Regions from separate parts of the Homo sapiens genome. Here all the other regions are reported to be linked to region 7. Evidence: microRNA targets listed by miRTarBase, many of them from high-throughput screens and not tested one by one. Region 7 holds a microRNA gene; each other region holds the end of a gene's coding sequence.
Evidence for each region. The annotated mature microRNA hsa-miR-4534 reads GGAUGGAGGAGGGGUCU and lies in region 7 at 1,410-1,426, opposite strand. An mRNA with a match to its seed (bases 2 to 7 or 8) in the 3' UTR can be bound and repressed. Matches are read on the target gene's strand: a 7mer-m8 pairs with bases 2 to 8, a 7mer-A1 pairs with bases 2 to 7 and ends in A, and an 8mer does both.

Region 1: the mRNA of GALNT6 is a reported target of hsa-miR-4534. Seed matches in the 3' UTR shown: 7mer-m8 at 2,655-2,661, 7mer-m8 at 2,488-2,494 and 7mer-m8 at 1,790-1,796.
Region 2: the mRNA of APOBEC4 is a reported target of hsa-miR-4534. Seed matches in the 3' UTR shown: 7mer-m8 at 2,821-2,827 and 7mer-m8 at 2,696-2,702.
Region 3: miRTarBase lists SCN2B as a target of hsa-miR-4534. Seed matches in the 3' UTR shown: 7mer-m8 at 1,765-1,771, 7mer-m8 at 1,966-1,972 and 8mer at 3,335-3,342.
Region 4: miRTarBase lists CLDN19 as a target of hsa-miR-4534. Seed matches in the 3' UTR shown: 7mer-A1 at 2,386-2,392 and 8mer at 1,443-1,450.
Region 5: the mRNA of NIPA2 is a reported target of hsa-miR-4534. Seed matches in the 3' UTR shown: 8mer at 3,411-3,418.
Region 6: the mRNA of HYPK is a reported target of hsa-miR-4534. Seed matches in the 3' UTR shown: 7mer-m8 at 1,097-1,103 and 7mer-m8 at 2,316-2,322.

What each region holds. Positions count from the first base shown.
Region 1 is chr12:51,350,902-51,354,966 of GRCh38, forward strand. GALNT6 (polypeptide N-acetylgalactosaminyltransferase 6) reads right to left here. Exons shown (of 12, transcript NM_007210.4): 12 at 351-3,591. The coding sequence ends at 3,478. Among named protein-coding and RNA genes, the nearest start is that of CELA1, 6.3 kb to the left of the region's middle.
Region 2 is chr1:183,643,949-183,648,013 of GRCh38, forward strand. It overlaps APOBEC4 (apolipoprotein B mRNA editing enzyme catalytic polypeptide like 4), which reads right to left. Exons shown (of 2, transcript NM_203454.3): 2 at 2,327-4,065. The coding sequence ends at 3,730. It also overlaps a transcript of RGL1 not described here. Among named protein-coding and RNA genes, the nearest start is that of APOBEC4, 7.3 kb to the right of the region's middle. RefSeq lists a silencer at 1,806-2,100.
Region 3 is chr11:118,163,398-118,167,462 of GRCh38, reverse strand. SCN2B (sodium voltage-gated channel beta subunit 2) reads left to right here. Exons shown (of 4, transcript NM_004588.5): 4 at 377-4,065. The coding sequence ends at 576. Among named protein-coding and RNA genes, the nearest start is that of SCN2B, 11 kb to the left of the region's middle.
Region 4 is chr1:42,731,652-42,735,716 of GRCh38, forward strand. It overlaps CLDN19 (claudin 19), which reads right to left. Exons shown (of 5, transcript NM_148960.3): 5 at 1,442-3,483. The coding sequence ends at 3,435. Among named protein-coding and RNA genes, the nearest start is that of CLDN19, 6.6 kb to the right of the region's middle.
Region 5 is chr15:22,866,557-22,870,618 of GRCh38, reverse strand. NIPA2 (NIPA magnesium transporter 2) reads right to left here. Exons shown (of 8, transcript NM_030922.7): 8 at 2,235-4,062. The coding sequence ends at 3,772. It overlaps CYFIP1 (cytoplasmic FMR1 interacting protein 1), which reads left to right. Exons shown (of 31, transcript NM_014608.6): 31 at 427-3,567. The coding sequence ends at 591. Among named protein-coding and RNA genes, the nearest start is that of NIPA2, 30 kb to the right of the region's middle.
Region 6 is chr15:43,801,465-43,805,529 of GRCh38, forward strand. HYPK (huntingtin interacting protein K) reads left to right here. Exons shown (of 4, transcript NM_016400.4): 3 at 54-105; 4 at 247-2,963. The coding sequence ends at 342. It overlaps MFAP1 (microfibril associated protein 1), which reads right to left. Exons shown (of 9, transcript NM_005926.3): 8 at 3,912-4,001; 9 at 3,028-3,812. The coding sequence ends at 3,630. SERF2-C15ORF63 (SERF2-C15orf63 readthrough) reads left to right here. Exons shown (of 6, transcript NR_037673.1): 5 at 54-105; 6 at 247-1,125. Among named protein-coding and RNA genes, the nearest start is that of HYPK, 2.9 kb to the left of the region's middle.
Region 7 is chr22:37,986,190-37,990,254 of GRCh38, reverse strand. It overlaps MIR4534 (microRNA 4534), which reads right to left and starts at 1,461; the gene lies at 1,402-1,461. It also overlaps a transcript of POLR2F not described here. RefSeq lists an enhancer at 3,805-4,065.

The DNA of each region.
Region 1 (4,065 bases), not on the chromosome of region 7:
GAAGTGCTATGCTATTTGGGGGCAGGTGGAACCTTCTTGACACAGCTGGGCACCTTGGTTGGGCTACATCATATGATTAGGCTGGGGAGCTGTTGGGTGATACCATAGACAGTATGAGGGATACTGGGATCCACGTTTGGATATTTAATGCAACCAAGAATAAGGCTAGGGTTAGGCTCCACGACTCCCTGTGGCTTACCGGACCTACCAAAGCCTCTCTCAACTGGGCCCCAACCCACTCTTGTACGGGGCTGAGTTACCCAGTAGGCACAGCAGGTGCAGTGCCCAGGGCCCATAGAAATGTTTTAGCTTCTTTTAAAACCAGAAGAAATAAAGTAAATCCAATCAGCCTGGATTACATTCATCTTTATACCAACATAGTCATAACATTAATTTTTTTTTGAATGGAGCAAGAGCTCCGTGAAGGCTAAAGTGCCTAGGGCCCCTGAAATTCATGATGTAACTCTGATCTTCCAGCTTCTACACCAGTCACTCCCTCACCCCAATGTCCTCTGGGTTTCTCAGACCCACTGGGGCCACATGTCCTCTGTGGCTTTGCTCCTGCCAGGCTGCTGCCTGTGTAACAACTCTGCTTATTGAGCCCTTCCCATCTGAGGACTCATCTTCCGAGGTCTTAGGTCAAACATTGCCATCTTTGTGAGGCCTTATCTGATTCCCTAAGTGGAAGGAATTGCTCCTTCTAACTCATCCAGCACCTCTTGGAGCATCTCCAGGCTTGCTATGATTTGCTTACATTTAGCGTGTGAGTTCCACGGGGACAGGACCTCGTTTGACGTCTCACGTCTCCACGTGCTTGACACAATACATAAGCTAGATTTAGGGCCAGAGAATGTTTGGGGACATGAGACAGTGGCTGTAACAGAACTTTTCAGATGTGTGTGGTTCTTCATAGCCCAAATCAACTGATTCAGCTAAGGGACAACACAGGTAAGAGAACACAACGCGAGTTTCCTTGACCAATGCCAGAAAACCTTTATTTCCACTGAGACCTCTCATCCAATTCTCTTCTTTCCGGGAACTTTTTCCCTTCCCTACTCCAGGTCGTACCCTGGCCACTCCTTTCCTTTTGGCTGGCCAATGTCTCCTCTGTAGGCTCCAGAAGGCTCTCAGGGATGTAGGCGGCCTCCCGCAGGGTTGAGTTGCAATGGGAACAAAGACAGCTGTGGTCCCATAGCACCCTCATCTGGTGACATCCTGCTACTGACAGTCAAAAGAAGCCTTCCCAGATGAAATTTTAGTCCTCTGCGCAGCCATGCTCTTCTTCCAGCAAAAGAGCCATGTGCAGTCGGGTCTGCTCCCCATGGGGGCTTTGATGTGGGCCCAGCAGTGGATCAGCCTTCCAGACACGCTCAACTCTGCACACTCTTCCTGCCGCCTCAGGCTTTCCAGGACCCTCCCGAGCCTTATCAGAGTCCTTACCCTCAGGGCTACTGATACCTTGCTGGGTGACCTTGGACAGATTCACTTACCTGGACTCAGTTTCATAATATGAAAATGATAGGGTTGGGCTACGTGATTTTCACGTTGTGCTTCCAGATTGTTAGAAGTTAGGGGCTGGAAGGCATTACCTGTCCCTCTCTCAATTTCACTCATGCTACTTTGTTTTTTTAATCTACCTTTTATATGGGGCTTAGAAAAAAGGGTTCTGGGACAAACCTGAGAATCACTGGCTCCAGGAGCTTTCTTTTAACACTAACATCCCAGGATTCCTAAGTGTGCTCTCTCCACAATGGCTACCTGGCCCTGTTTTTCCTTTCTTTTTTTTGGAGATGGAGTTTTGCTCTTGTTGCCTAGGCTGGAGTTCAGTGGCGCGATCTTGGCTCACTGCAACTTCCGCCTCCCAGATTTAAGCAATTCTCCTGCCTCAGCCTCTTGAGTAGCTGGGATTACAGGTGTGCGCCACCATGCCTGGCTAATTTTTATATTTTTAGTAGAGATGGGGTTTTACCATGTTGGCCAGGCTGGTCTCGAATTCCTGACCTCAGGTTATCCACCCGGCTCGGCCTCCCAGAGTGTTGAGATTACAGGCATGAGCCACCGTGCCCGGCCCTGGCTGTTTTCCTATGCTCTGTGGAGGCCAGCCAGCTAGAAATGATTAGAATGGAGGAAGAGGGAATGAGAAGGCTGGTGGCGAGTGGTCTAGCGTTCTTGTGGTGCAGCGGAAGGAGCCCTGGCTCAGCATTGAAGAACGAGCCTCAGTCTTGGCTCCAGCCATCTGCTAGCTATGGGACTACAGACAAGCCCCTTTACCTGTGTCTCAGTTTTCGTATCTGTAAAATAGGCACAGTGGTTTCTGTCCTGTCTTTCTCACAGGATTACTGTACAGATAAAGTAAGATAAAGGACACCTGTCAAGGAGATATCTGTAAACAGTTCTACAGACTTCAGGTAATAATAGCAAGGGAGGATCTCTTAGACCTCTGATCTGTCTGTTAGAATATACTTTTTTTTTTTTTTTTTTTCCTGAGATGGAGTTTCGCTCTTGTTGCTCAGGCTGGGGTGCAATGGTGCTGTCTTGGCTCACTGCAACCTCTGCCTCCTGGGTTCGAGTGATTCTCCTGCCTCAGCCTCCCAAGTAGCTGGGACTGCAGGTGCGTGCCATCATGCCCAGCTAATTTTTGTACTTTTAGTAGAGATGGAGTTTCACCATGTAGTCCAGGCTGGTTTCAAACTTCTGACCTCAGGTGATCCACCTGCCTTGGCCTCCCAAAGTGCTAGGATTACAGGTGTGAGCCACTGTGCCCAGCCAGAATATATCATTTCACTGGACTCTGCAGGTGCTTTGGATGATCAAGGAATAGGACATGGCTGTAGAAGTACTTTTCTTCTTCTTTTTTGTTTTTTTTTGAGACAGAGTCTTACCTGTTGCCCAGGCTGGAGTGCAGTGACACAATCAAGGCTCACTGTAGCTTCAACCTCCGGGGAACAAGCAATCCTCCCACCTCAGCCTTCTGAGTAGCTGCGACTACAGGCATAAGCCACCATACCCAGCTTTTTTTTTTTGCCGGGGGGAGGGTGGGCGTAGAGATGGGATCCTCACTATGTTGCTCAGGCCGGTCTTGAACTCCTGGGCTCAAGCCATTCTCCCACATTGTCTTCCCAAAGTGCTAGGATTTCAGGCATGAGCCACTGTGCCCAGCCTGAAGTACTTTTCTTGAACTCAGCATTGCTGCCCTGAACCCTCCCCCAGCTGCCTTCCCTACTTTGGGAGCCTCTATTTCTAGAACAGGAAAACGCTAGGCTAAATATATGTCCTAATGGTCTCTTCCATCGGTGTGAAGGAAAGAAAATGGGCCCAATGTTGTTGCAAGGATTAGGAAGGTCCTGCCTTGCCACCCAGTGGGTTTAGAAATCCATCTTTACGGCCTCCAGAGAAGCTGGTGATCAGGTTCCCAGACATCAGCAATCCTGTTTCCTGAGGAGCTTGTGGGGGCTCTCTCTGGGGATGATCTGGGTCCTAGACAAAGAGCCACAACTGATGGGGGTCACTGGGATTGCAGGGGGCCATGGCTGGCTTTTTGTCCTGGGATGTCAGGCAGGTACCAGATCCTGAGTTCCTGATGAGCTGATCCTAAAAGATGACAAAGCAAAAGGTCAGTCTGGGCCACAGACCTCTTAACGGTGCTACCAGGGACAATGCGATGGGGTGCAATTGACAAAAGCCAAGGGAACCCCACAAGGCACAAAGAGGACACTTCCCCATTCCTTTCCTGCCCTCTCATGAGACACATTCCTGAGTTCCCACCTCTATCTGGTGCCAAATCCCCATCCCTAGCTTCAGACTGAGTGGATGAAATGGTGAAAGACAAGACCATGGGCTGAGAGAAAAATGCTTTCAGGGCCTCCCGCACCCCCAGATGGCCAGGCTCAAAGACCCAGGGCCACTGCTCCACCTCCAATTTTCTGCCTTGGATTATGTTTAGACTGCTCCCTTCCCTGCAGCCTCCAGGTTAGGTTCCTCTTTCCTAAGCTGGGGTGGAGTAGGGAGGCTCACTTGGGGTGCTGGCTTGAGCTCAGCATGGTGGCGGTTACATGGCATATCCTG
Region 2 (4,065 bases), not on the chromosome of region 7:
CATGAGGTCCTGGGCGACAGGGGAGTGGGGGAGGGCCAAAGTTCTGGGATCTAGAACCTACTAAAGTTTTCCACCCTAGCCCACCCTGCCTACCTGGCTTCCATAGTTTAGAGGATGCCCATTGGTACTGTGGTTTGAGCAGAATGACAGAAAAGCTACAGGACAGGTCCTAAATAAATATGGATTCTTTCAGACTTTGTAGTGAATCTGCATTGTTATTATTTAGAGAAGCATTAAGGCATAATGATTAAGAACATGGATTCTGGAGCTTGACTTCTTGGGTTTAACGCTCAGCTCAGCCTTTTTTTACTACTTGGGCAGTTACTTAAATTATCTGTGCCACAATTTCCTTATATGTAAAGTAGTTATTATAATAATATCTACCTCATAGGATTATTGGGAGGATTAAATGAATTAATACATGTAAGTGCTTAGAAAAATACTTGACATATAGCTCTCACTCAATGTTAGTAATAATGATAATATTATTTTTTAGAAACAGGGTCTTGCTATGTTGCCCAGGCTGGAGTGTAGTGGTGTGATCATGGCTCGCTGCAGCCTCTACTTCCTGGGCTGAAGCAGTCCTCCTGCCTCAGCCTACCAAAGTACTGAGATTACAGGCAGTAGCCACCACGCCTGGCCGAATAATATTATTTTAAATTAGCATAGGTTATGATGTGGCTTTCCTTTTAAAATTTATTTTATTTTATTTTTTTAATTTTTAAATTTATTTATGTGGCTTTCCTTAAAAACCAATACGAAGAGTAAGATTCCATTCTGTGAGTTAAACTTTTTGGATTGCTTATACTATGAATAAAAAAGATGTAACGGCAGTTTAAAGAAATAGGATTTGCTGTCCGATCAGCAGGATTAGATTATAGCTTGATGAATTCTAATCTATTTAGTATTATATAAATTGGATTGTAGCTTGATGAAACATAGAAAACGGATTTCTAGTCACATAGAAAATCGATGCTATGACAGGAGCTGGTCATAGAGGTTTGTGTTGTCTCTTGTTGCCTAGACCCTCCCAAACATTGTCCAGGAATGAGATGCCTTTGTGCATACCCCATCCACCACTTCATTCTAAGCAGATGTCAGTCACCACTACTAAAGCAGAATCTGATAGCACTAAACATTTGAGTCACATAATGGACTCCTCTAATCCATAAGGCAACCTTATGATAATTTGGCTTGCTATGTAGCTTATCTACATGGAGAGGCTATGTAACCTGGATGACTTGAATATATGCTTGCATATCCAGTTATAAGTCTTACTAGAAATCAGTACATTAGTTTTTTGTCTTTACATGTCAATCTCAAGAGGTTTGTTAATCCAAACCTGCTTCTGATGAGTAAATCCATTCTCCCTGTACTTACTAAGTAGGTAGTTGAGCATATAAAGCTAAGACCCCCAAACCCTGGACCTTGGTAGATTCACCAAGATAATGTGTCCGTCTCTTCAGTCTCATTGTTTTCTTGGGATATATCCCAGTGCCTTTTCCAGATCATCATATTACTAGCTACCTTAATTTACTTCTATTTTCTTTATTTCCATTAGTTCTATATGTGTGGTGGCAGAGATATTCTTCCATATCACCATTGCCAGTTGGCTGAAGAGGGGTGGAGCAACCCAATTTCTCTCTCTCAATCCCCGGCCAGCCTGATATGACCAAGAATCACTGCGTAGTGAGCAAGGAAAGCTAATCACTGCACTGCAGGATCTCACTTTGTGGAACTATTGCTTTGCTATATGCCTTCTTATAGCAGACGGAGCTGAAAGGAACCTTAAAGATGAACTAGCCCACATTTCTTGTTTTACAGATGAGGAAACAGATTACTTGCCTTGGACAGTATATCTTTATGCTCTTCTAACAGTCTTTTGTCTAAGGTTGGCCTGGACTTACGACCTGTGAGTAATCTTCTTTGTAGCCCTAGTCTTATCGAACCAGTACAAAAGTTTAACTGCCAAAGGCACTTTCTTTCCTATAGTTCTGACAACTTCTCCTTTTGTTATATACCACTGATATCCAGGTTCAGTTCATCATCTATTTCAGACCATGTTTCTAATTGGATTCTCTGTAGCCTGGTTCATGTTGTAGTCTGCCATTTTCTGGCAACAAATTGGATCTATTTTAATAATGATCAGAGATGCTGGATTTGTCATGTTGGGATCTTTTTAACTCAGTATCCCAAATTGTGGACATAGGATTTCATGAAATAAAAATAAACCTCAACAGTACTTCTTTAAATAATACTCACTATATACCCAGAATAAAACTATATTCCAGTAATTCCATTAAAATTTGTATGCTAACAATAAAACTTTGTTTTAAAATTTTTATTCATGTTTATTTTAACCACAATACTAATTGCTATTCCTAAAATATGTTTTTCTTTCTCCTCCTCCCTTATGGAGTATTAAATGTTTTAATGTCATGGCAAACTCTTTTATTAGCTTAGGATTACTTTATATATATATATAAAGAAAAAAATTAATAGCAAGTTACGAGAAAATGTACATTTTTCTTGTAATGTATCTTTACATATTTCAAAGAGGCAAGTGGCAGCAAATGTGAAATAAGCATAAGCAAAGTGCTTTCATTTAAGTGCTTAGAGGATTAATCAAGGAGCACTTCCTAGAAGTGTGTTTTGAAGATTTTAAGAGAAGGTACAAATATTCACTGGTGACGAGGATGGAGTCAGAAAGAGGGAAGTAAAACACACATTATGCATTGGGAGCTGCATTAGAAAGGGGAATGGATGCTAACAAAAAGAAAAAACATCTCTTGCAGGATGGTGAAGCAGGCTTTCAGCTGGGATGGAGAAGGGATGCTGAGTTACAATCATTGGTGAAGTTATTGAGATGTCATTTCAGCCTTGCTACTCACATTTTGCTGGGTAATGTGCTAGATCCTAAGGGAAAAGCTAAAGAGAAGGGAGAGACAGTGCTTGACCTGTAGGTACTTATGATCTTGCTGATGAGACAAGGCAACAGGAAGTTAAAGGAGGATCCTTGAAAGCCAGTAAGAGGAACTTGGATTTTATACAGTATGTGATGACAGGAGCCATTGGAGGTTCTCATGTATCATCTTACCTCTATCATCTGCTCAGAAGGGAGAGGTCTGAGCTGGGGAAGATCAAACTGAGCAGGTGGCTAGGTTTTAATCTTTATAGCTATATGTAATCAGCAGAAGAGCTTTTTCCCACACAAAACTATTTTGAATCACTTTAGAAAAAAATGAGCTGCCTAAAATCTTCTGTCCATGATTAACAATTAATAGAAAATCACTGGTTTGCTCCTGCAAACAGCACTTAATGTCAGTAGCTTCAGGCTGTTTTTCAATTTTACAGTAAATTTTTTACCGAAACAAATTTAGGTAGCTATTTTGTCCATGGGCTTTTGTAGTGGAAAGATGATGTGAGTAAAATAGAATAATGAGATTCCTTTTCTGCATCAAAATATTAGCAAGCTGCTAATGGTTCCATTTTGATACTGCCACTTTCAAAATAAAGGAGAGAGATCAAGTTGCTTATGGAAACATTTTGGATTATGTTTAAAATAGTGTAACTTTATAATAGTTGATATGGTAAATAATTCAAGGTTTGCTTTTAGTGCATCAGTTTATCTCCATCTTGGCTCAGCCCTGAGAGAGAAAGTTTCCAGATTTTTATTGCCTATCTAATAAGTCCCTTGGTAATTGGTTTCATGCTGTAGGAATGTAGATTTTATTTCTTCCCTTTCTTCTTCTTCTTTTCATCTGCCTCCTTGCTACTTGCAAACTGTTCTGTGATTTCCACTATCTCCACTGACCTTCCAGTGGGAAGCCTTCCAAGGTCCTTGGTTTCCTGGAATGACATTTGAGGCATATTTAAGTGCCTTACGATATTCCTGGGTTTATTTGGGTTTTGGCCCATATGCATTGGTGGTAAGTCCCTGAGAGGCACTAGCACAAAAACAACAGGAGCCCTGAGGTCTGGAGGTAGGTTGGGTTGGAGTTGTCCACTCGGCATTTGAAAAAACTGTCCAGGAAAGGCATTGTTTAAGGGGTAGCTCTCTAAAGC
Region 3 (4,065 bases), not on the chromosome of region 7:
ATGAAAACCTTTGAGGGAGGTACTATTATTAAGCCCATTTTACATGTTAGAAAACTGAGGTTAGAGAGGATAAGTTACTTAAGGTCACGCAATTCGTAAGTTGTACAATTAGGACTCAAATTTGGGTCTGTTTGATCTTAAAGTTCATGCTCTTAAATACTTCATCACACTAGCTCCTCTGGGGGCTTTGGGTGTCCTGGGATTTGGAGGTGGCGGCGCTTCAGGGTCAGTCACTGGATTGCTTTTCGGCTTTGCTAAAGTCCTGTCTGTGGAGGAGAGTAAAGTCAGGATGGTTCCACGCATGCCACGGGTAGTGGGGTGATGGGGGAGGCCCCTTTCCCAGCCCTGGTGCTCAGTGGCTCTGCTTCCTTTCCAGAGCCCCCTGAGCGGGACTCCACGGTGGCCGTGATTGTGGGTGCCTCCGTCGGGGGCTTCCTGGCTGTGGTCATCTTGGTGCTGATGGTGGTCAAGTGTGTGAGGAGAAAAAAAGAGCAGAAGCTGAGCACAGATGACCTGAAGACCGAGGAGGAGGGCAAGACGGACGGTGAAGGCAACCCGGATGATGGCGCCAAGTAGTGGGTGGCCGGCCCTGCAGCCTCCCGTGTCCCGTCTCCTCCCCTCTCCGCCCTGTACAGTGACCCTGCCTGCTCGCTCTTGGTGTGCTTCCCGTGACCTAGGACCCCAGGGCCCACCTGGGGCCTCCTGAACCCCCGACTTCGTATCTCCCACCCTGCACCAAGAGTGACCCACTCTCTTCCATCCGAGAAACCTGCCATGCTCTGGGACGTGTGGGCCCTGGGGAGAGGAGAGAAAGGGCTCCCACCTGCCAGTCCCTGGGGGGAGGCAGGAGGCACATGTGAGGGTCCCCAGAGAGAAGGGAGTGGGTGGGCAGGGGTAGAGGAGGGGGCCGCTGTCCACCTGCCCAGTGCTTGGCCTGGCAGTGGCTTCAGAGAGGACCTGGTGGGGAGGGAGGGCTTTCCTGTGCTGACAGCGCTCCCTCAGGAGGGCCTTGGCCTGGCACGGCTGTGCTCCTCCCCTGCTCCCAGCCCAGAGCAGCCATCAGGCTGGAGGTGACGATGAGTTCCTGAAACTTGGAGGGGCATGTTAAAGGGATGACTGTGCATTCCAGGGCACTGACGGAAAGCCAGGGCTGCAGGCAAAGCTGGACATGTGCCCTGGCCCAGGAGGCCATGTTGGGCCCTCGTTTCCATTGCTAGTGGCCTCCTTGGGGCTCCCGTTGGCTCCTAATCCCTTAGGACTGTGGATGAGGCCAGACTGGAAGAGCAGCTCCAGGTAGGGGGCCATGTTTCCCAGCGGGGACCCACCAACAGAGGCCAGTTTCAAAGTCAGCTGAGGGGCTGAGGGGTGGGGCTCCATGGTGAATGCAGGTTGCTGCAGGCTCTGCCTTCTCCATGGGGTAACCACCCTCGCCTGGGCAGGGGCAGCCAAGGCTGGGAAATGAGGAGGCCATGCACAGGGTGGGGCAGCTTTCTTTGGGGCTTCAGTGAGAACTCTCCCAGTTGCCCTTGGTGGGGTTTCCACCTGGCTTTTGGCTACAGAGAGGGAAGGGAAAGCCTGAGGCCGGCATAAGGGGAGGCCTTGGAACCTGAGCTGCCAATGCCAGCCCTGTCCCATCTGCAGCCACACTACTCGCTCCTCTCCCAACAACTCCCTTCGTGGGGACAAAAGTGACAATTGTAGGCCAGGCACAGTGGCTCACGCCTGTAATCCCAGCACTTTGGGAGGCCAAGGCGGGTGGATTACCTCCATCTGTTTAGTAGAAATGGGCAAAACCCCATCTCTACTAAAAATACAAGAATTAGCTGGGCGTGGTGGCGTGTGCCTGTAATCCCAGCTATTTGGGAGGCTGAGGCAGGAGAATCGCTTGAGCCCGGGAAGCAGAGGTTGCAGTGAACTGAGATAGTGATAGTGCCACTGCAATTCAGCCTGGGTGACATAGAGAGACTCCATCTCAAAAAAAAAAAAAAAAAAAAAAAAAGGCAATTGTGCGGAGCCAACCATCACTGCCATTACACTCACATTCAATGGAAATTGATTAGGCCTGAGAGAAGGAGCAAGAGGCAGAAACACTGACTCTGAGACCATGACCTTGGAAGATCCTCAGAGATCAACTAGCCAAGTCACTCACTTAAAATGGGGAAACTGAGGTTCCAACTGACAGAAACTGAGGGTCCTGCCCTCTTCTCTGGCTCCTCAGTCTCCAGTTTGAAGCAACAGAGCCATCATTTTCCCAGTGGGAGGGGCCTCTGTGTCCTGGTCTATGATGGGGCGAGTTGGAGGGGTGGGCTTCTCTAGCCCTGCCCCCTCCCAGGAGCCCAGCCCCTCTGGCCAGGACTGAGGAGGAGTGGAGGGAAGCAGGGAGGGAGGGAGCAAGTGTGAAGGGCACAGCTGCTGGCAAATGCCCCATTCCCTGCCCCAGCACTTCCCAGCCTTTCCAGGAGCTCTGCCCCACCCCTACTCAAGGAGTCAGGTGCCCAGGGTAGGGAATAAGTCTAGGAAAGGGGGTGGAGACAGGACCGTGACAGTCTCAGGGACCAATCCCTGCCTCTGCCCATCAGATTGCCAATTTGGGGAGACAGCAATATCATCTGGGAGATTCAGCTTAATTTGCTTCAATTCAGCAACCATTTATTGAGCATCTATTATGTGCCAGGCACTGTGCCGGGCACTGGGGATATACACAAAGCCATAAGCACTGGGGACTGCCAGGTTGGCACTGTAGGGACCAAGATTAACTTTTTGGTGCATCTAATTCCACCTCTGCAAGACACTGCTTCCAAGGCTACAGTTGGGGAAGATGAAGAGATTCTAGAATCTGTGCCCTGGGAAGGGAGAAACAGCAGGGAAGAGGGGCAATACAACAGGGTCAAGGGTGCAGAGGCCAGGCAGAGTGGGTGCAGAGTGGGGGATGGGCAACCAGCCTGGTAACACCTGGGTGAGGTGAGCGAGTCAAGCCCATCTGGAAATGCTAAACTCATCAGCTCAGTACCTAACTGCCAATCAACACACTGCCAATGCGGGTGGGCTAAGCCGCCAGGATGCCTGCAGCAGATGGACGCTGCCCATCCTTGAGCCAGCCAGCTGGGGGCAGAGAGGTGGGTGGCGGGCACCTCATGCCAGCTGAGACCAAGAGTGGTTGTATACATTTCTGCAGCTTGCAGATTTCATTTTTTTGGTCACCCTTTAAGTGTCCTTCTCTCCCAGGATGAGTGAGGAGCTGTGCTGATGTTGGGAACTTATCTTTTTCCAGGATCCATAACATTTAGGGGAATTATTTGCGGGCTTTCCTAGTGTATTCTAAGAAGTTCTAACTCTCCATCAAGAAGCCCAAGATTCCTGGAGTCTTTTTTTCCTCTGCCCTGATCAACTGGGGCCCAGGAAAAGCAATGTCTCTTCACGGGCCTCAGGGCCCCAGCAGATGGGGCTGGGTCAGGAACCATCTCTGTCCCAGGTGCTCAGCCCTCATATGCATTTTCTTCTGGAGCCTCTTAGAATCTCCTCCAGAGGACTCATAGAGCTGCCTCCCCCAGGATGGTGAAGTTGGGAGCAAAATGGGGCTTCTGTAAGTAGAGGTGGAAAACCAGAGAGATGTTTCCACAGCAGCCATTTCCCTACCCTGTTTCCTAACTTATGCTGACAAGTTCTTCCTCTTCCTACCGTGGGGTTCGAGCCCCACTTCTGGTTGCATGTTCCCACCACCACGCTCTGCTGGTTTTAGTCGGCTGACTTTCTCAACTGCCCCAGCCTCTCCTGCTCTCTCAGAACCTCCCTCTGCCCCCACCCCCCATCTGTCTCTTCCTCCTAATTAAGGGCCACTGCAAAGAGAGACGGGCTGGCTAACCCATGGGATTTAGCTTATAAGAACAAAGCACAATTATTCAGGACTGAACTGCTTTGAGGTGCCTTGGAACTGGCTTTGGAAATAGCTATCTGCCCCCTAGCTATGGACTCTTCACAGTTATTTCCAGTTTATAAAAAGGAAAAGCTGATCGGATCCATGTTTCTCTCTGCGAGTCTCCTTGGGGAGGTTGGGCTGGTAAATAT
Region 4 (4,065 bases), not on the chromosome of region 7:
AGTTTTTGAGCCTCTTCCCAAGCAATAGCATATTTTCCTGATCAGCTTCTCCAGGGGCTCAGGTTCACTCCTTTTTGCTGAACATCTTCTGTTTCTGTGCTCCTTGGCCCTGGGGCTGAGTACATGGGTGTATTCCTCCTACAATCATATTTTATGGCCTGCCAATTTCCTTCTGGGGTGGGGGGGGCGGGGAACAGGACGACTCTGTTTAGTAATACACAATGCTTTAGAATAAGGCAAAAGCCTTAGAATCATGCCTTTTGAGTCTGAGCCCTACCTTCCTGGGTCTCTCCCCAGTCCTTTAGCCTTAAGGCTAGGACAGTAAACAACAACCTGGACATGACGCCCGGATTATCAGCCCTGCCTCCAGTTGGCAGCCCAGGTGGCCTTGTTGTAGATATATGAGTGGGTTTGCTTCAGGAGAAGCCTGTGGGAACAGGCATCTCAGTCTTTTAGCTTCAAATTCCTCTGGTTTTTTCCCAGATATCTTCTCATTGCCAGGATCTCACTACATTTTAAATCAGTGTGTTAGTTGGTTGTTTAATTCAGCGAGACGTGTGGTTCTCTGACCCTCTGCATCTTTAATCCCTGGCTATAGGCAGAAAGGGCTTCCCCTAAGGAACAGACTGAAGCTTGTTCCCACTTTGCCATCAGGCACCCCCTCCAGCGCTCCCGCCGCCCCCCGCCACTTGCATGTATCTTGTCTGTCTTGCAGCCTATCCCTGAAACCCACAAGAAGTAGCCAGCACACTCTATCCTCGCATTCTCCATTGGACCCTGAATCTCAAGAGAGAATGACGTGTGGTTTCCTGGCCAGCTGCTTCATGACCAAATAGCAAGGACTGCCCAACACCCAGCCTAGAATAGGAGGATGATCCCACCCCTGCTCCACTGGCACCATATAACAGGATTCCGCAAGGCTGTGCTGAGTTTCCAGGTTCCAAATCCTGTTAGGTAGGGCTCTTCTGGCTGTGTGGGACAGGATTCAAACTCAACGTTTTTTCAGCCAAAAGGGGAATTGATTGGGAAGATGTGGGCGTGTCACAGAACAGCCTGGTATTGGGAAAGGCAGGAGTGAGTGGGGCTTCCTCTCCCCACCTCTTTTCTTTCTTTCTTTTTTGAGATGGAGTCTTGCTCTGTTGCCCAGGCTGGAGTGCAGTGGCACAATCTTGGCTCACTGCAGCTTTCGCCTCCTGAGTTCAAGCAATTCTCCTGCCTCAGCCTCCCGAGTAGCTGGGATTACAGGTGCCCACCACCACAGCCGGCTAATTTTTGTATTTTTTAAAAATAGAGACAGGGTTTCACCATGTTGGCCAGGCTGGTCTCGAACTCCTGACCTTGTGACCCACCCACCTCAGCCTCCCAAAGTGTTGGGATTACAGGCATGAGCCGCCACGCCCGGCTACCCACCTCTTTTCTTTTCTTTTTTTTTTTTTTTTTTGTGATGGAGTCTTGCTCTGTCATCCAGGATGGTGTGCAGTGGCACGATCTTGGCTGACTGCAACCTCCACCTCCCGAGTTCAAGCGATTCTCCTGCCTCAGCCTCCCGAGTAGCTGGGATTACAGGTGCCCACCACCACAGCCAGCTAATTTTTGTATTTTTAATAGACACGGGGTTTTACCATATTGGCCAGGCTAGTCTCGAACTCCTGACTTCAGGTATCTACCCACCTCGGCCTCCCAAAGTGCTGGGATTACAAGCGTGAGCCACCGTGCCTGACCTCCACCTCTTCCCTTGTGGGTTCTTTTCTCCCTCTGCAGACCTCACAGAGTCACCTGGGCTTGAGGCCTCATAGAGGAGCCCTCAGTGCTGACCACACACTACAGTCCCCTGAGGAGCTACATGACTTCTGATGCCAGGTCCACCCAGACCAATGAAATAAGAGTGTCTGGGGTTGGAGCCTAGGCATTGTGCCCCCAGGTGATTCGAATGTGCATGCAGGGTTGGGAACCATTGCACTATAGCTTCAGGCACCCAGAGGAGAAACTCCTGCAGTTCTCATTCATTAGAGGGGCAGGACTCTGGGGAACCTATTTAGGGTCAGGTGGCCACATCCTCTGACCAGAGGCTGGACAAGTCCCTGTTGTGCCCCGGTGGATGTGCAGCACCGGCCAGGCCAGGCGCCGAGGGGTCAGTCCCCCAGCAGCTCCCTGCCATTTGTGTCATTCCTCCCCTCCCTGCCCTTGACTGCAGTGTACATGGCAGTCATCTCATCTGACTTGGTTTCCGTCACTTTCCCTCTCAGAGTCAAGCTCGAAGGAGAAGCTGAGCTGCGTTCTTGAGATCTGGGGACGTGGTGGGAGATGTGGTCACAAGGCAGGTGGTGGAGGAGGCCAGAATGGAGCTGGCCAAGGAAGGTGCGTGGCAGGGAAGGGGAGGTTCTGTGATGGATGCTTTCCCCAGAAGCCTGATACGCAGTGGCCAGGGAGACTGAGTCCCGGGAGAGGGTTTGGGGTGGGAGAGGTCTGAGCATGAGGGGCAGGGCACACTCTGGTTCAGGGAGATGTAGGACAAAGGACTCTGGCCTTGGGACTGATCTGGGCTGGTTTCCTTACATTCCTCTCAGGCCCTTCCCCCTGTATGCTAAGGGGGGATGGTACCTGGACTTCAAGACCAAAAGCCCTTCTCTGACCGCACTGCTGAGTGCAGCAGGCAGCTCCACCCACAGTCTCTGGGCAGCCCCAGGCTGTCCCCTCCCCACTCTGATTCTAGGACAAAGACCTTGGACCTCAGCTGGATGCTGGGGATCAGGAGAGGAGGAATGGTAGGTGTGGAAACAAGGGGCAGGATTCGGGGTGAGCAGAGCTGGGGGCTGCAGACCTTGCTCAGGACAGTCCTAATGCCTGCAAGCTCCTAACGCCCTCCCCACATTCCCTTTTCTACATGGGGAGCTCCTACACTGTGTCCCCTCACCTATCGCTGATCCCCAGCATCCAGCTGGAGGGCCTTCCAGGAACTGTCCCTTCCCTTAGGAGGTCTCTGGAGCACAGTAACAGGGGCAGGGTTTACTACCTTGGGGCCTCTTTCCACACCAGGGGCTCCCTGACCCTGGGGACTGCTCCTAGAGCTGGGCCAAGCCTCAGGGGCAGCCTCCAGGAGTGAGTGGGATCTCCTATCAAGGAGGACTTTGTGCCAAGGCCAAGGCCAGGCTTGGGAGGGGGGTCCCTAGACAGAGGGTAGGACCTCTGAATTATTTCTTGCTTAGCCCTGGATGTGCTATGTAACCCACCCTGGACCTCTGTCTCCTCATCTTTCTGCCCAAGAGCCCCAGGGGTCAGCACTGACCACTCTGACACAGGCCCCGTCCAAGCCACGCTGAGGACAGACCGAATGATACCATGATTGGGGCTGGATGTTCACTTCTCTTTCCAAAAAAATATGAAACACACAGTCTAGGTATGGCAGGGGACAGAGCCTGGCTGGGGACTGGACATTACACACCCAGGGGGCCCTTGGCGGAGGCGGGCAATTTAACAACTGGTCTGAAAGTCAAAAGAGAGAGAGCTGGTTAGTGGAGTGAGCTGTGGGGTCGGGGGCAGGGGCTGTGCATTCAGGCCCGGACATGGGTACTGGCCAGCGTGGCCAGACCTTGGCCCTCACAGCAGCCCTGCCTGGGGCCCATTCCCGGGGGCAGGGGCGCCATGGTCCGACCTCACCATCTGTGTAGGTGGCCCCCAGCCCTGGGCGCACTGGAAGAACCTGAGACCTAAACTCAGACCCTCCCTGTCCTTGTGTGAACGTTCAGCATCCCGGCACTGCCCTTGTGGGGTTGCTGTGAGGAGCCCATGGGACTGGGGAGGGTGAAGGTTTCTGCTCACCCCAAGGACCTGGGTACTAAGGTACGTCTTGGCCACTGCTCTATCTCTAGGGCCCAGCACGTAGCAGACACCCAAGCAGCTCTTCAGTGAGTAAACAGCCGGGCTGGTGCCTGAGGGCCTGTCTCCAGGGATGCATGCTGGTGCCCACCAGGCTGTGCAGACAAGACCGTGCCTGGACCTGCATCTGTGTGTATGCCTGGGGGCTGGGTCCTGCCTCTGGTGTCTCTCTGAGGATCTGGGTCTCAG
Region 5 (4,062 bases), not on the chromosome of region 7:
TATGTGGCTGGGAGTGCTGGCTCATACCTGTAATCCCAACAGTTTGGGAGGCTGAGGCAGAGGAGGATTGCTTGAGCTCAGGAGTTCAAGACCATCCTGGACAGCATAATAAGACCTTGTCTTTACAAAATTAAATTTAAAAATTAGCTGCGTGTGGTGGTACACGCCTGTGGTCCCAGCTACTCAGGAGGCTGAGGTGGGAGGATGTCTTGAGGCTACAGTGAGCCGTGATCATGCCACTGCACTCCAGCCTGGGCGTCAGAGTGAGACCCTATCTTACAAAAAAAAACCCAAAAAGAACAGTATGTGTGTCAATTCCGTTTGCTATTATTTTTCTGAGAAAATATAAGAATCCTGACATTTTGAAACATGAAGAATAAATGTTGAAGTGTTAATAGTAAAACATCCTCACTTTGATGGTTGTAGCCTTTGAAGAAGATGGTGGAGAGAATTCGCAAGTTCCAGATTCTCAATGATGAGATCATCACCATCCTGGATAAGTACCTGAAGTCAGGCGACGGGGAGGGCACGCCAGTGGAGCATGTGCGCTGCTTCCAGCCGCCCATCCACCAGTCCCTCGCCAGCAGCTGAGGGCACGCGCTGCACTCCGTAACTCAACATGGCATGCCTTTCTCTCCGTAAACTATTTAGTGAGATTTTTAGGGACTATTTTTCAGTATCTCTGTACCTGTTAAAGGGGGTGCTTTTCGATCTAAAAACTTAATTTTATAAAATTGACTTATTTTTCTAGACTAAAATTGTATATGCTTTTGGTAATTAGGAACTCTTGAGAATATTGGCTGCTGATTGTTGCCATCACGTTCCTACAAAATTGTTTTTCTATGGGATGTTCTGGCAGCTGTGTCATAAAATGCTGCTGGGTTCATTCATTCATTCCATAAGAAACTTAATACCAGCAAATGCATTAAATCCCTTGCCAGTTACCATTAACTGTAACTATTTAGCTTTTGTTTAGGGATCTTTCTGATGGTCTTTTATGAGCAATCTTAGTTCTAAGTCATTGTTCCCATCCCTTTTTTGTGTGTTTCAGAAAATAGTGAACTTGATTCCCCTGCTTCCACTAAATCCAGTTGTGACAAAATCTAACGTGACATCAGATCGAAAGGTTATAGAAATAAAACTAATGAGATCTATTTGTGTTCATTTATTTACTCTAACCCTGTGCTGCCTGGCTTGGCAAGGAACTCTAACCTGAACTCACATACCAGGCCAGCTGGGATGGAGGTCACCTCTAAGGCTGAGGTGGGATGGGACCGTGACACCATCCCATATACCGCTCACCTCAGCACAGGTTTAGCTTTATATTTAGGGTTCCGCAGGCAAATGAGGTGTAAAACGGCCGTGTTGGCTGCTCCAATCTGGATATGAAGAGGCTACTCAGTGCCTCTCTGTTACCTGTGCCCATGACCTGGAGGAAGCCAGCAATGTGGGAGGAGATCAGTCAGGCCCAGTGGGTGCTGCACAAAGGGACCGGGAGCACCGAGTCCAGCCTTCAGCTGTCCCCGATCCACAGGGCTCACATGGCTGGAGCTGGTTCACATGATCTGTCAGAATGAAAAACAATCGGTCTAGACTACCAGTAGAGTCACGAACATGTTTGAGAAACTAAAGCCATATTTTAAAAAGTACTAAGGCAATGAGGTTCTGAAAATCCTAACTAACTGAATGGAAAAAGATGCTATGCCTGTTTATTGTAGATGAATACTACAGATAAACACAAGTCCAGCATGATTAACTGAACTCACTTTATATTGTAGCCTGGCAGTCATTTTACATTATTTGGAGTATTGCAACCTTCACCAATTTTAAAATTTTCTATGGATGCCAAGTTGCCATAAAAAGCAGGCCTCGCCTACTTTTCCGGAGGCCTTTGGAAACTGTCCAGAAGCATATGATGCACGGCACAGAAAAGTAGTAAGTGTACGAACCATCCTGTTACACTGCCAAACTCACTCAAGTGACATGAAGCCTAACAAACAATTATTCTTTCTTTATAAAAAGTTCCCTAAAAATGCTTTTGGTAATGTGAATTAATAACCCTGGGGCCAGCATTCTGCTGCAGATTTAGAGGTGGTAGCTGTGCTTATCTTAGAAACTACAGAATAGGATGAAAAATTATGGTAAAACTTAATCAATTACCAAGTTTTATAAGGCTTAATTATATACCAAATATGTAATACCTTAGGTATAAGACAATCTCAAGTGCTACAAAATGTTAAATAAGAATTTATTATTTATTAACCTATGCATGTTCAAATGAGTCTCTGTCCTCAAGGGGGAGAAAACTGGTTCTTTTATGTACAAAGCACAGATGTAGGTACAGTATATAAACAGATACGTAGTACATCTGTAGTATTAAAATGGCATGGGAGGAGGCAGTTAGAAAAAACATCTAAAACAGCTCCTTAGAAGGCCAATAATAAAGTTGGAAAAAAGGGAGTTTCCACGCAGCCAGTGGTGAGCTGCATGGGATACCAGCACCATTGGCAGGGGAGGCCCTCGGGGAGTGATGGCTTGGCGCTGGCGCACCACTGGGTAACCTCCAGGCAGGAGCCACAGGCTGGAACAGGCGAACACTTTCTTCCCATCACCTAGGTGGAAATTAATTCTGCCAATACTTTTTTTTAAAGGCCAGTCAATGGTTATGAGTGGATAGGTTCAAAGCTGAATGGAGTTCATTAGACCTTTTTTATTATTCTACCTTTTCTGCATATGTTTGCAGTTTTCCATCGACTTCTTCATAAACAAACATTTTCTAGAAACCAAAATATGTAGTGGCCCAAAGGAGCTCTTAAGCAAAGTACTTGGTACAAAGAGACCATATTCTATAAACATGTTAAGTTTGTTCTAAGCATTCAGACTTTTAGAATAAGAACTTCATTTCAACTTTTTATTATAACATGAGCTAAATTTAAGAAACAACCCTAGTCTTCTATTTCCCAGAGCTGTTCAAAGTCTAAATGACAATATAACTCATTATGAAAATATACTGAAAAGTACAAGAGCTGATGTAAAACGGTAATCAAGGTTCCAGGCATCATGGGATTAGGGTAACTGAAGAATAAACCCAGCCAGGCTGCAACAGCAGGCAGGATGTGCTGGCTTGATGAGGTGCTAAGGCCATCGAATGCTCAGAGGAAGCCGGATTCACGGTGATCATCTCAACCTGAGAAATCGTTCCTTGGGGTGATTTCTGCCCTTTTTTTTGTTTTGTAAGAAAGAGGTTCCTTCATTCAGTAACTTAGTTTTCCCTTAATAAATATTTCAAAAATAAAACCAATCATCATCAAACAAACAGGAGCCACTTTTGTAGGTAAGGTAAATCACAGGATAATGTATTGGGATAACTCTGTTTTTTTAAAATAAAAAAGCCTTACATGGTCAGGGATTGATGGAGTGGGGATGACAAATGCACATTTCAGACTTTCATCACCAATGAAAAAATAAAGCATTTTCATAGACTTAAAACTGTCATTAGTGCATTCGGCTTTTGGAGAAGGGATGAAAATGTAAAATACTTCTACAACAATAAAATGTTAATAGAAATCGTCATGTGCTGAGGTCATTTTAGTGAGCTACCATTGTTTGTTTAAATACAAGAAAAGTAATTTCTTGGTCCAAATTAGTGAAATCTTTAAAAAGATTGCCTTTAAAGAACATTATTTGAGGACAATGTTTTTTCAGACACATTCTGATGATATTCAAATTCACTTCATAACAATCACAGATTAACCTTTAATTACACCTTTCTTAAAAAGCTGTCAGATTTCCATTTCTTCGGGAGACATTTTCACCAGTGTGTTGTTCGATTCCACAGGTTAAGCTTTCTTCATTATTATTAAGAACTTCATACATATTAGAGAGATTGCCATTCATTGCTTTCTCGTCTTTTCGAAAAGACACAGGCAGACTTGCTAGACTAAAGCTGACGTCTTTAAAGGCATGCAACAAGAATATCCCCACAATGATTGTAAAGAAGCCACTCAAAGTACCAATGACATCGTCAACAGGCATATCTTGCCACTCCTTAAAAAGAATAGC
Region 6 (4,065 bases), not on the chromosome of region 7:
AGTTTATGGTGTTGGTTGAGAATGAGGACTAATATATTTAAATATTTTTGCAGGGAGAAAGAACTGGCAAAAGTCACTATCAAGAAGGAAGATCTGGAGCTAATAGTGAGTGGTAGTGCCTAACTAGTGTATGCGGAGGGGAGGCTATTCTGCTTAATTTGGGTTGTTTCCTGAAACAAGCGGAGTCAGTATATTTGGTGGCACATTAATGCCTGGGAACCTATGTAACATGATTTTTTTCTGCAGATGACTGAGATGGAGATATCTCGAGCAGCAGCAGAACGCAGTTTGCGGGAACACATGGGCAACGTGGTAGAGGCGCTTATTGCCCTAACCAACTGATGCGTGCTTTCTCAAATATACCTACTGGATTAATTTATGGCAATAAAATTTTTTTTTGTCTTTTTCAGTTTTATCATCTTGGGTCAAGTAGAGTGTATACTATATCCTATGTTGTGGAGAATTTATATGTTGGAGACTAACTGAATTTAAGTGACCCATTAAAATCTAGCACACCTGTATGAAAAATCAGTGTAGAAGAATACCTCATGTGCAGATGCTAGGTGGCAGGCCAGTCTCATTCATCTGACTAGCTCTCAACAGTATTCAAGGTACATCTGGAGTCTCAGCAGAGTTACTGTACTCAAATGGCATGTGTCTCCAAGACAGCTTATGAATATCTAAAAGGCCAGCTACCTGCCTAGGAGCCACTATATATATAGATAGATGTAGGTTATGAACCCAGTTCATAGGCCACCTTGAGTTAGAATTTTGGTACCTACAACATGCTTGATTTTGAGTGATTAAAAAAAAATAATTTGGCTGGGTGCTGTGGCTCACACCTCTAATCCCAGCACTTTGGGAGGTCGAGGCAGGTAGATCACGAGGTCAGGAATTCAAGACCAGCCTGGCCAACATGTGAAACCCCGTCTCCACTGAAAATAGAAAAATTAGCTGGGCATGGTGGTGGGCGCCTATAATCCCAGCTATTCTGGAGGCTGAGGCAGGAATCGCTTGAAATTGGAAAGCAGAGGTTGCAGTGAGCTGAGATCACACTACTGTACTACTGTACTCCAGCCTGGGGGAAAGAGTGAAACTCCATCTCAAAAAAAAAAAAAAAAAAAAAAGCCCGGGCACAGTGGCTCACACCTGTAATCCCAGCACTTTGGGAGGCTGAGGCAGTCGGATCATGAGGTCAGGAGTTGAAGACAAGCCTGGCCAACATGGTGAAACCCTGTCTCTACTAAAAATACAAAAAAAATAAAATTAGCCAGGCGTGGTGGTGCATGCCTGTAGTCCCAGCTACTCAGGAGGCTGAAGCAGAAGAATTGCTTGAACCAGGGAGGCGGAAGTTGCAGTGAGCTGAGATTGTGCCACTGTACTCCAGCCTGGGTGACAGAGCGAGACTGTCTCAAAAACAAAACAACAAAAAAGAATTTAGGGGCCAGGCATGGTGGCTCATGCCTGTAATCCCAACACCTTGGGAAGCTGAGGCAAGACGATCACTTGAGCCCAGCAGTTTGAGACCAGCTTGGGCAACACAGTGAGATTTCGTCTCTACCGCGCTCCCCCCACCACCAAAAAAAGAATTTAGGTACCTGAGGGTTAGAACATGGTAAGACTAGAAGATATCAAAGGTTGGGCCAGGTGTGGTGACTCATGCCTGTAACCCCAGCACTTTGGGGAGGCTGGGCTGGGAGGACTGTGTCAGGTCAGGATTTCCAGACCAGCCTGGGCAACATAGCATGACCTTGTCTCTACTAAAATTAAAAAAAAAAAAAGCCAGGCATGGTGGCATGTGCCTGTCTGTGGTCCCAGATACTCTGGAGGCTGAGATGGATTTGCTTGAGCCTGGGAGGTTGAGGCTGCAGTGAGCTGAGATTGTGCTACTGCACTCCAGCCTGGGCGACAGAGCAAGACTGTCTCAAAACGAAAAAAACCTATGAAAGGTTTTGATTGGTATTCAAATTCTAAGCCATAATACATTCTACATGCCATTTCCTATCCTAGAGAGAAGGTAATTTTACTTTAAAGGTTAATCAGGGCCGGGCGTGGTGGCGCATGCCTATAATCCCAGCACTCTGGGAGGCCGAGGCAGGTGGATCACCTGGGATCAGGAGTTTGAGACGAGCCTGGCCAAAATGGTGAAACCCCATCTCTACTAAAAGTACAAAAAAAAATTAGCTGGGTGTGGTGGTGGACGCCTGTAATTCCAGCTACTAGGGAGGCTGAGGCAGGAGAATCTCTTGAACCCAGGAGGTTGCAGTGAGCAGAGATCGCGCCACTGCACTCCAGACTGGGCAACAAGAGTGAAACTCCATCTCAAAAAAAAAAAAAAAAAAAATCAGCTTGGACCAACTCACACATGTTGAACTAGTTTCCTCAACTATAAAACTGTGACGGCCCCAGCTAGGCACAGTGGCTCAACGCCTGTAATCTCAGCACTTTGGGAGGCTGAGGCGGGCGGATCGCGAAGTGAAGATCAAGACCATCCTGGCTAACATGGTGAAACCCCGTCTCTACTAAAAATACAAAAATTAGCCAGGCATGGTGGCAGGCGCCTGTAGTCCCAGCTACTCGGGAGGCTGAGGCACTCTAGCCTGGGCAACAGAGCCGTCTCTTTAAAACAAACAAACAAACAAAAAAAAAACCCTGCAACGGCCCCTGAGTCTGCTGTAAGGACACTCAAATGGCAATTACAGACATTTCTCCAAGAGTTTCAAGGCCTTACCCTCATTCTGACTCTAGGATAATTCTTAGATTGTATCCCACACAACAGTGACTTGTACCTGTGTTCATCTTTATGTATTTACCACCTCATAGTAATTATTTGCATTCATTTTTATCGTACGACACTAAACTATTTGATTCTTCCAGTGGGACATTTAAAGGATGTGAGAAGACCTTGGTCTTCTCAAAAACATCTGTATTTGGTCATGGAATAAATCCAGATGCTACCTAAAGCCAAGCTAGTACCTGAGCTTGTTTCTGAGATCAAAGGGAATTATCAAAATGTGAAACACCTTCTGCCTGACAATTGTTATCTTTTACTTTAATAGGCAATTAATACTTGTCAGCTTGGACATTTTATTTCCAGTATCATGCTAAAAATCTCCTTGTTGTGTGATTCTTTTATTTCTTGACATGCACACATATATGGATCAAAAAGTATGTACAACTAGAAAAACGGACTCCAAGCAAAAATGGAAAACATGTTTCCATGAGCTTAGATTTCCGGGTATATTACTCCTAAACCTAAGGTAGAAGTAATGCATTGTTCACTTACATGTCCACTTTTCTAACCCAAGCTAAGGGCTGGAAAAAGAAAGTCAGAACAGTCCCAAGTAAATATGGGAAACCATAGCAGTGATAAAACCTAAGATTTCTCAGAAATAGTTTTAAGTGGGAAGCCTCTAATCCTACCTGGACAGTGCTTTCCTGTGGGTTTCTCAGCATGAGTCCAAACCTCACAAAGCACCTTCAAAGTCTGGGCTACCCAGTATCACAAGTATAGCAGTAAGTCCAATATCTGGATACAGGGGCCAAGGAAACAATGAAAAAACCAAATCAAGGACCAGATGCTGAGACTCCCCTTGTGTTCCACAGTTGGAAGAATAAGCAGTTGGACCCTAGGTAGTTTTCCGCTTCTTGGCAGATGGCCGCTCAAATACATCTCGTACCCCAGCTGCCTTTTGTTTGAAGAACTTTGTGTTCTGGGCACTCTCTTGGCCCCAAGCTGAGTCAAAGGAGGTGGTATCTTGATCCACAAGGTGAGTGTATTTGGTGCGACCTGAGCGTCCAAAGTTCTTGACCTGAGGGAAGGATGGATGATGAGTTATACCACCAAACAAACCATGCCTCAGCTATCAATACATCACTTTTCTCTGTCATGTTATTAAGGTTCCCCATACCTGCATGACTTTAGGAAGAATGGTTTTATTGAAATGATCCTCCAGGGTAGGAGCGCTGAAATCTCTCTTGTATACTTCTTCATCCTCATCCTGTATAAAAAAAATCTTATCAATCTTGTGGCTTTATTTCCTATATATTCAAACCACAAATTTA
Region 7 (4,065 bases):
GGGGCAAGAGCCCCTGTTGGGACAGGCCATGGAATGCCATCCTCCTCCCCCAGAGCTCAGACCCTCTGCCTCCAGGAAGCCACTCCTGCCCGCTCCAGCCTCCCTGGTCTTTTCCTCCTTGGAACTCTGACAGCAACTCGGCTCAGGGAAGGTGAGCCGAGGCTGAGCATGGCCTCAGGGGCTCCCAATAGGAACTGGAGACTGGCCTGTCCTCCAGGCTGTTCAGTAAGGAGGCAGAGCACATCTGAAGGTGTCTCCTCCTCTGAGGGAAAGTCATAGGGAAAAGAATTCCAACCAAGGTGCCCAAGGTGTGTCCTGGAAGAGGACCTCTCAGTGGGGCTGCAGCAGTGCCTAGACCGCCAGCAGGCAGAGGGAGGACAGCGCTCCAGGGGAAGGTGGAGCAGGCCCAAAGGCCCAGGCAAGGAGAGGAGGCAGGAGCAGGCCAACCTGCAGCTGCACTTGCAGCCTAGGGGCAATAGAGCAGAGTGGTCAGAGGCTGGGCTGGGACCAACCACAGGTCCCAGTCCACACCCTGTCATCATTCGCTGGGCGAGCTCAGGCCTGTCACTGAATCGCTTTGTGCCTCAGTTTCCTCCCTAAAATGAGAATAATAGCATCTACTCAGAGGGTTGTTGGGAGGATGAAGTCCGATGACAGGAGCCCTCACAGCTGAGCCGGCACCTGGGGAGGCCCTAGAGTGTCGCCTTCGCTGTTAAGGGGCATGGCAGAGGAGGCCCACCCATGACAGAGGAGCTTGTCATCCCAAGCAGGAATGCCACCTGGTCTGACATTAGGATTCAAAAGGCAAATGATAAACTCCTGACTGTGAGGCCGTGGTGGCTGCTCGGTTAATACTTGTGCACTTGACCTGAGGTGAGCATCCTCCACACCTCCCAGTGCTGGCCTAATAGCTAAATGATTTCCTCTGACTCACATTTATTGAGCAGTCACTATGCTAGGTAGGGGAGATGTGTGTGTGTATTCTTATTTAATTCTCTCATCACTTGGGGATATCAAGGGTGCATAAGATTATCAACATCGTACATATGCAAAAGCCGAGTCCTGAGAGGTTAATAGCGTGATCTGCCTAAGGCCCCTTGGGTACTAGTGGCAGGATTTCTTGACTTCAAGTCACTTTCCACTACATCCGAGACTGAGGATGACACAGCCTTATCCAAAGGTGGAGGTGGCCTAGAAAATGCTCAGGGGAGCTCCCACAGCCACCCCAGCGCACTCAGACTCGGCTGAAGACCCACAGGGTAGCTTCTGTCTGTCACTATGCTGCCCTCGACCACTAACCTGTGCCCGTCGGCCCTCCACCTTCCCAGTGCATAGGCCCTCCCCTGCCACACCCCAAAGCTCTCCGGATACCCCAGTATAACCTGCCTGGCTGGTGGGTCCAGTACCCAAGACCCCTCCTCCATCCCTGGTGATTTTGGCTCTGGAAGGGGGTCATTCACAGCCTCAGGGATCCAGAGACTCTGTGAAGACCTCCCAGGGAACTTTATGCTTGTACCTCAGCCCCAGAAATTCAGAATCAACCAGTCTGGGGTGGGATCTAGGCTCCAGTATGTTTTTTTGTTGTTGTTGTTGTTTGTTTTTATGAGACAGAGTCTTACTCTGTCACCCAGGCTGCAGTGCAGTGGTGCGATCTCGGCTCACTGCAACCTCTGCCTCTTGAGTTCAAGTGATTCTCCTGCCTCAGGCTCCCACGTAGCTGGGATTACAGGTGCGTGCCACCATGCCCAGTTAATTTTTGTATTTTTAGTAGACATGGGGTTTCACCATGTTGGCCAGGCTGGTCTCGAACTCCTGCCCTCAGGTGATCTGCCCGCCTCGGCCTCCCAAAGTGCTGGGCTTACAGGAATGAGTCACCACGCCTGGCTCAGTATGTTTTTCTTTTTTTCTTTTTTTTTTTTTTTTTGAGACAGAGTTTCGCTCTTTTTGCCCAGGCTGGAGTGCAATGGTGCAATCTCAGCTCACTGCAACCTCCACCTCCCGGGTTCAAGTGATTCTCCTGCCTCAGCCTCCCAAGTAGCTGGGATTACAGGCGCCTGCCACCATGCCCAGCTAATTTTTTTTTTTTTTTTTTTTTAGTAGAGACAAGGTTTCACCATGTTGGCCAGGATGGTCTCAATCTCTCGACCTCATGATCTGCCCACCTTGGCCTCCCAAAGTGCTGGGATTACAGGTGTGAGCCACCACACCCAACCAAGGCCCAGTATGTTTTTCTTAACTCCACAAGTGATTGTAAATTCAACAAGAATTAGAGCCAGTCCTAGGCAACTGATTAGAAATGCAGAACCTCAGGCCCCACCCCAACCTGAAGAATCCCAGTGCGCCTTCCCATTTGAGAAGCACTGCCCTACGCCAAACCCCGTATCCGCAAGCCAGGCCCTGTGAAAGGCCCCCGCAGGGAAACTGGAGGTAGGAGGGCACACAGTCCAGATAGAATTAAAGAGTGGAGGCCAGGACCCCCCAGGTCGCATCCACACAGCACTCAGAGGTGCTAAACGCTTTCCCTGTGTTCCCTCATCCCATCTCAGCCCTGTCCTCTGAAAGTCAGGAAGACAGTCTCATGCCTGTGTGGGGAAACTGAGGCTGGGGCAGAGCCTCAACTTGACCAGACCATCCCTCACTCCTGCATGGCCCCTGGTTCTGCAGCCAGCAGATTTCCTGACCTTCATCTCAGTGTATCCTTCAGGGCAGGCAGGGAGGGAGGGTGACCATCGCCCCACGTGACAGGTGAGGGACCAGGGACCCAGTGGGGGAACACAGGCGGAGCCTTCCATAAAGCCGGACCAGCTCCCTCAGGAAGAGGACTTGGGAGCTGGGGGGTGAAGGGTCACTGCTGACCGGAGGCAGCTCTGCCAGGCAGTGTCATCAGTGGGCTTCACGTTTGACTGACAGGTATTCCTTTCCTCTCCTCCTCTCTGGGGCCCATCTTCTGAGTAAATCCGGGACCTGCCTTAACAAAAGCCAGGCTGAGTCCCAGGAAAACCCTGTTGCTCCGGAAAGGCCTCCTTGGGCCATGGAAGGAAGCCTGGATTTCCACCATTACACTCAGACCGCAGACCCCTCTCTGCTGCAGAATAAACACCCTGAGAGAAGGCAGGTCATAGAGCCTACCAGACACCACACCTTGCCATGGACGGTGACAAACCCTCACTTCAGGACAGAGAGGTGATGGGGGGTGGGGTAAGGAGGTCACAAGCATCCCTGGAGAAGGGTCAAGAATGAGGGGGTAAAGGGACCCCTGCCACCCCCAGCAGGGAAAGGAGGAGAAGGTGACACTGGCCCTCCTGTTGTCCTGCTGGGGCAGAGGCCCAGGTGTCTTCAGCCAGGATCCCTCCCCTCTCCAAGCTCCCTGCTCTTCAGGAATGACTATGGGTCCTTCACCCTTGCCTGCTGGAGAGCACTGGGTTCCCAGGGCCTGGGATGGGATGGAGGGGATCCCAGTTGCCAGCATGGTGGGCAGGGATGTGTTCGCAGCAGGGGCCCCAACCACACACACACAGCACTGGTCATCTGACAGCCCTTCCCACCCGCCCTGCAGGCCCACCTGCCTCACCCAACACTGCTCAGCAAAAAGCCCAGCACAGCCCTGAGAGGAAGGCAGTGTCTGTGCGGGGACAAGGGAGAGAGAGAGGGAGTGGCCCCTTCTGTCTAGCGTGGCTTCCTGCAGACAGAGCGTGCCCACTGCTACCCCCACCCCCATCCTGGCACAGCTGGACCAAGGAGGGCAAAGGAGGAAGCAGGGAGTTAGAGAGGGGGCAGCTGTGGGACCCCACATTCCACCTCCTAACTCTGGGCTCTTTCCTTCCACAACCACCCCTCCTGCCCCAGGCGGGTCTCAGGCCAGTCACAGACACAGCAGAGAGCGGGGAGGTCCTTTCCTCAAAGAGGAGGAACTGAGGGGTGGAAGGATGAGTGGGGACCCACCGGGAGAGAGAGATGCCAGGCAGGCAGGCAGCGGGCGGGCAGCAGCGGGTGTTGGAGGCGACTGCAGGGCAGCCGGGACACGACGGCAGATGCTCGTCCCTCGTCCCTCTGTCCATCCAGGGC